Regions from separate parts of the Homo sapiens genome. Here region 2 is linked to region 1. The links come from fine-mapping of genetic effects on gene expression. A gene starts in region 1. The other region holds a variant in brackets. All regions are shown on one strand. Distances are between the middles of the regions.

Evidence for each region. PIP is the estimated chance that this variant, and not a neighbour inherited with it, causes the effect.
Region 2: its variant is fine-mapped to the expression of ITGB1BP1 in whole blood (TOPMed, PIP above 0.99).

Annotation. Positions count from the first base shown.
Region 1 is chr2:9,422,554-9,425,448 of GRCh38, reverse strand. It overlaps ITGB1BP1 (integrin subunit beta 1 binding protein 1), which reads left to right and starts at 1,921. Exons shown (of 7, transcript NM_004763.5): 1 at 1,921-2,076. It overlaps CPSF3 (cleavage and polyadenylation specific factor 3), which reads right to left and starts at 1,795. Exons shown (of 18, transcript NM_016207.4): 1 at 1,626-1,795. The coding sequence starts at 1,675. RefSeq lists enhancers at 1,559-1,608, 1,649-1,698, 2,569-2,618, 2,612-2,895 and a silencer at 2,129-2,428.
Region 2 is chr2:9,490,771-9,493,683 of GRCh38, reverse strand. ADAM17 (ADAM metallopeptidase domain 17) reads left to right here. Exons shown (of 19, transcript NM_003183.6): 17 at 698-786; 18 at 2,533-2,583. It also overlaps a transcript of IAH1 not described here. Among named protein-coding and RNA genes, the nearest start is that of IAH1, 18 kb to the right of the region's middle. The variant T/C (reference allele first, on the strand shown) is at 1,091.

The DNA of each region.
Region 1 (2,895 bases):
TACTCAATCCATGCTTTTATTCATCCATGCTTTTATTCATCTGCTACACTGCTGCCAGGAGAGATTTTCCTAAAACATAATTCCCACAATATCCATGCTTGCTTAATAGCCTTCGCTGGCTCCCTGTAATTGACTTGATAAAGGTCCAAACTCCTGTGTATACGAGGTGCTTCCTAAACTGGACCTCAACTGCCTGTCGCTTCATCTGCTAACTCAACTCTTTAGCTACAGCCATGAGGAATCTGGCCACAAGCTGTGACCACTCTCACTTTCATATGTGCCACTTCCACTGCCTAGAACATCCTGGGCCCCCCAGTCTTTAACTCCTACTCATTCTTTAGGACTCAGCTCAGGCATCACATTTTTCAGGATCCACGAGGTATCCTTTTTTCCTCAATCTGTCAGAAATCCCTTTTCCATACTTTCACAGTGCTCAGTGCAATGCCTGCCTGCGTTCTTAGATTAGCTATTATTTACAAAGCACCTACCGCGATGTTCACTCTTCAAGTTTTATCTTATTTCCATATGAGAAAACGGGTTCAGTGAGATTGTTGTCCTACTAATTGGTCAAGTAGATAATGGACTTCAGGTCTGACTTCAAAGTAATAGTCTCCTATTATTCCAAAGTATCTCTCCAATATTTCCCACTGTGCACTGTAATTCTCTCCAAAAGAGCGAGAGCAATTAACTGGGCCCTCTGTTGCGTCTATATCCCCATGTGTGGTGCTTGACACTTGCTCAGTGTTTGCTCATCACAGGAAGACATGACAGGTGTGAACTAAGCAGAAGGAAACGGACTATGTCCCAAGCAGGTGCTCAATGAAGCCTTACTGAATGATTGTGTAAAGGAGATACTTTCTACCTTTTGGAAAGCGTATATTCATGTTGTGCCAACTAGTATCTAACAATAAACATGTTGTGGGTTCGAAATGCTCATCTGTAGGAATTCAAGTTCTCTACATTTGCATCTCCCCTTCAGCAGCATTCCCGACTGATGAGGATCGTGTCCACTGAAAGGCCACTCTCCTTATGGACAGTCGAGGGCTGAGTTTTTGTCCCTAACACCTCTGCACTTTCTCTTCTCCAGCTTTACACCTTCCTTATTCTACTAGGGCCTGAGCTGAGAAGATCGAAACTCACGGCAAGTCCCTAATATTTTCTAACTTCTGGCACATGTGAAGCCCTGGTGTTAAGAAACAGACTTAATTCTTCCCTGCACGGCTGTAGCCTCATTCAGGTCCTCCTCTCATCCTGTCGGTCATAAGCTTCACCGGCTCCCTCACAGCTTGCCCTGACGCGCAGAGATCCGTGCTTGTGCTAAGTGAAAACGCTTCTTAGCGTGTACGAAAGCGAGCGGTGGCCCCGTAAAACTTTTTTTTTTCCGACTCCAACATACCCTCCCCTGAAACTGATGAAAAAGCAAAATCCCGTTCACTCTATAGCAGGCCCCTTCCGATCAACGGTCCTCCAACCCCTCGAGCCTGAGAAGCCTGGCCCGCAAGCGCGGACCAAAGGCAGGCTGCCGGGGTAGGTGGGAGCGCGGGCGACGGAGGAGGCCAGTCTCCGGTTACCCCTCGCGCCCCTCACAGCCCGTGGCTTCATTCCCTCTCTCGCTGGTCCCTTACAGGGGTCGGATCAGCAGCTGGTCGCTCTCCTCAGCAGGAATCGCAGACATCCCGAAAGTGTGAGGGCGAAGCGGGGGTGAGGAACAGGTCGCCGGGGTCTTCCTAAATTGGAAGCACAGCCACCGGTAAATAAAAAAGGAAGAACCCCATTCACCAAGAGCACAACTTCCGTCACTCCGGAGCCCGCGGCACTAGACTCCTCCCCTCGACTTCCGGTCGGGGGACGCCGCTCGCGAGGCTTCCCACCACTTGGGGTCTTGGAACCGGGGGTAGGACGTCAGGACTGCGCCTGCGCATAGTCTTGGAGGCGCGGCCCGGCGGACGTGGGCAGGAGGGCTGGAAAAGCCGGCGCTGGAGCGGGAACGGGAGTAGCTGCCTGGGCGCCAAAGGCCGCGGCACTCCCACGCGGACCCCGAAGTCCGCAACCCGGGGATGGGCCCGCGGCTGCGAGGTGAGCGCCCAGCCCTCGTCCCGCTTGGGGCCGAGCTCGCGGAGGCCTGACGGGAACACGGTCCCGAGAGCGGCGCGGACGGCCAGGAAGGATGGGTGGGGCCGCGGGGCGGGCGGAGGAGGGATGCCTGGGCTCGGGCTTGGTTCCGGGCGGGGCCGCGCTCCCGGGGCGCGGGTGGAGGAGCTTGGAACCACGCAGATCGGGCGTGGGCTTGCGGACTGCAGCTTCCCGAGCCGCTGTCGCCCCGGAGGGGCGGCAAGGCGGGCGGCCGCGGGCCGTTTCCTTGCCTCTTCCTCTGCCCCGCTTCGGCCGCCTCCCGCCTCTCAGGGTCGGGGTTGTCTGTCCCCTTCGCTGTCACATCCTCCGCACCCAGCGCTTGGAAGGTGCTCCATCACGGTGACAGACAGGTGCCAAGCAGGCTGGCGTCTGGGAGGAACTTCGGAGCCGGCTCTCCCTAGGCCCCGAGCTTGGCCGCATCCGTCCTTACTCTGGTGACCCTGGGCAGGTCACTGACTCTTCGGGCGCTTTGGCATCCTCGTTTGAAAGGGGCTGTTATCCTGCAGCCTTGCTGGTCGGTGAGGGTGAGGGTGAGAGGGATCTGTGCACCTAGCACCGTGCATGGCACGTGGTAGGCGTTTGGTACATGGGAATCGCTGTTGGGGTGTCACCTCCCCAGAAAGTTCTCGGCTTCAGTAAGCGCGTCCCCTGCCAGGCGCCCTGGCAATGCAGAGGAGTCACCGAGCTCCGCCTTTGACCAGCGTGCAGCTGGGAGAGTGAGATCAGAGACCACAGCAGATCGTGGCGCTGTGATCAGGGGGT
Region 2 (2,913 bases), 68 kb before region 1:
GTGTGCTTTCAGAGTGATGTGCTTTAATTCTGCAGTAGAAGGTGGAACTATTCACAGCTTTAGTTATGAAACAACTTTGTTGGCTAGAATAAAATGAACTCATAGATAGTCTGTCCCCGTGGAGCTTGGATGCACAGATTTTCTGACAAGGGAAATAAAGTCAAAATACTGGCTTCCTTCTTTACCCAAAAATATCCATGTGATTAGCATAAGCATAGTTTAATGCTATAGACTGAATCCTGATTGATGTAAGAGTGTTTATTTGACTGAATGCTATATACTGAATCCTGCTTGATGTAAAAGTGAGCCTCATATTTTGCAGAAGCAGGGTATATCATGTTGTCACGAGTCCATAATTTAATCACAAAAATAATATCCAGGTAACAAAAACTTTGTCTTCTTAAGCATTTACTAGTAGTAGCATTCCATATTAATCTGTTGACACAGCTACTCCAGGTAACATGTTGAATATTCTGCAATCTCTTCCTGTCAGCCAGTATATGAGGGCTATTTCTTTAAAAGCACTTGGTATGGAGAGATGGTGTGGTGTAATACAGGCAGCACAGACATTCTGCTCTCGGTAGTATGTCTAGCCAGCAGCTCTGGCATTTGACACAATGGTAATATCCTAAGAGCATTTCACTTTAGATTTGTGAAGTACTTGGTCAAGACATTAACTGTTTGGAATTGTTCACAGGAAAGTTTTTAGCAGACAACATCGTTGGGTCTGTCCTGGTTTTCTCCTTGATATTTTGGATTCCTTTCAGCATTCTTGTCCATTGTGTGGTAAGTCATCAACTTTTAAGTAATTAAATGTTTTATTTAAATTTTGATCAACTCCAACCATGTAATCTCTGGAAAAGGTAAAACTTGTTCTTAGCAAAGTTTGGCCTGATATTTCCAATAGCTTTTTTTGTTGTTATTCCTAGGGGAACATGTCTTGTAGAAAGCTTAACTAATGGTCTTTTAAAAAAAATACTATTTTTGTGTGTTGGTGTTTTAATATATAAATTTCTTAGGAATTTTATACTTTTAAGCATAGGAGACTGTTTAACTGGATTTGTCCAGGTCCTTTGATGAGTAAAGCCCT[T/C]ATTGAAGAGCATTTTCAGGCTGACTTCGTTGCAATAGAGCAAATATCAAACATCGGCATTTCAGATGTTCCCCATATATCATGTAGATTATTGGCAGCAGATGGCTATGTCTTCAGCCTTCTGCACAAATAGGATGTAGGGACTGGGGCCCAGCTGTCATATAGAGTATTTACATCTTCCCCAAAAAATAAGAGTAAGCAGTCTTTTCTGTTCTCATTCAGAATCAGTAACAGCTACAAGTTGAATTGGGCTTTGACTAAGGAACTCCTGGTCCTTTATAAATTTGAGGCCCTTTTTCATAAATGTTCTTACGAATCCATTCACTTGCATCTGTGGGGAATGGGGATTTGTCTGCTGTAGAGATGAGAAAGTCACACCCAGGCTTCCAGACTTGTTTTCCCAAACTCTTTCATAGTGGCCTTCCTATGAGCATTTAAAAATTCCAGCACAACTCTGATGACAAAGGAGTTTTTCCTACTGCCTCCTTCCTTTCCTTTCCTGCTGGCTTCTCCTGCCTAGGGGCCATCTCACAGAGCAGCTCTTCCTCAGGGTGGTGAGCATGATGGGTATAGGAAGATCTCTAGGGAGCACTTGTGCTGAAGAAAGCTGAAGGTGACGTGCTTGAAGCTTTGACAGATGTCTCTGGATGACAGTGCCATCCATCACGATTGCTTCTATTGGAGGATGGAACCTATTTTGTTTACAGGGAAGTTGCACATGTGGACAAGGCACGACCCTTGATTTCAGAGCAAAGCCTCCGATAGGAGGGAGGGCCATGGCTTGTTTTTGGTCATAGAATGCATTGATGGCACCCAGACAGGAAGCCTAGTCCTGGATTCTTGGTCCTTGCCCTCTGTCACCTATTATGCTTCAGCCACAGGCAGGGATGGGGCAGCAGATGGCCATGTGGTTAGCCTTCTGCAGAAGTAGGATGTAGGGATTGAGGCCCAGTTCCTCCAGCAGAGCATGGTCCACAGAAACTGTGGAGACAGCTAAGAGAGTGAGGCCATGGGCCGGGGCAGTGCGAAGAATGCTGCAGGCCCAGCCACCTGGGTCTTCCTACCAGTTGCCCTTCCAGTCAGTGCGGTCCTGGTGTACCCAGCATCTGGGACATTTGTCATTTCATGCACAGGAAGATGCCTTTATTATTCCCCTGCCCACAGAGGGATAAATTTCTCAGAAAACATAGCACTTAAACCTTGCCTCTTTCTGTACTTAACGCCAAAATGTATTTCCTTTGAGTGCAAAGGAAACACTTCTAGACTGGTGGCATAACTAAAGCTTGGGTGAGAAATGGATTGTCATCTGTTGAGCCTGCTATCACTTTCTACAACTCAGGTTCTAAGTTCTTCAGTTAGTGTTAGGAATAGCCTGTGATGAAATAGTACTCACTAACTGAATTGTATTTGTAGGGAATGACCTTCTTGCTGTTTCTTTCTAGGATAAGAAATTGGATAAACAGTATGAATCTCTGTCTCTGTTTCACCCCAGTGTAAGTATACCATATGAAAGAAACATAATCTTCGCCTGGTCTGAGGCCCTGTTAGGCAAAGACCTTCACCTGACCCAGCAAGAGCTTTCACTGGCTGATGGAAGGTCATGTTGCAGCAGGAAGGGTCTAGGTTGGAATGTTTACCCTTCTGACAACAGTGATGGTGAACTTCGATTAGTTGCATGGATGGACATTTAAAGAGCTGTGCTGTCCCCTTCCCAAGCCATAAGGAGTGATTTAGCCATTCAACACTTAGTTAATATTTTGAGTTCAATTTCTCTCTTGGGATCTTACCTTGAGAGGTTTGAATCCTCTTTTGGGTCTTCAAAT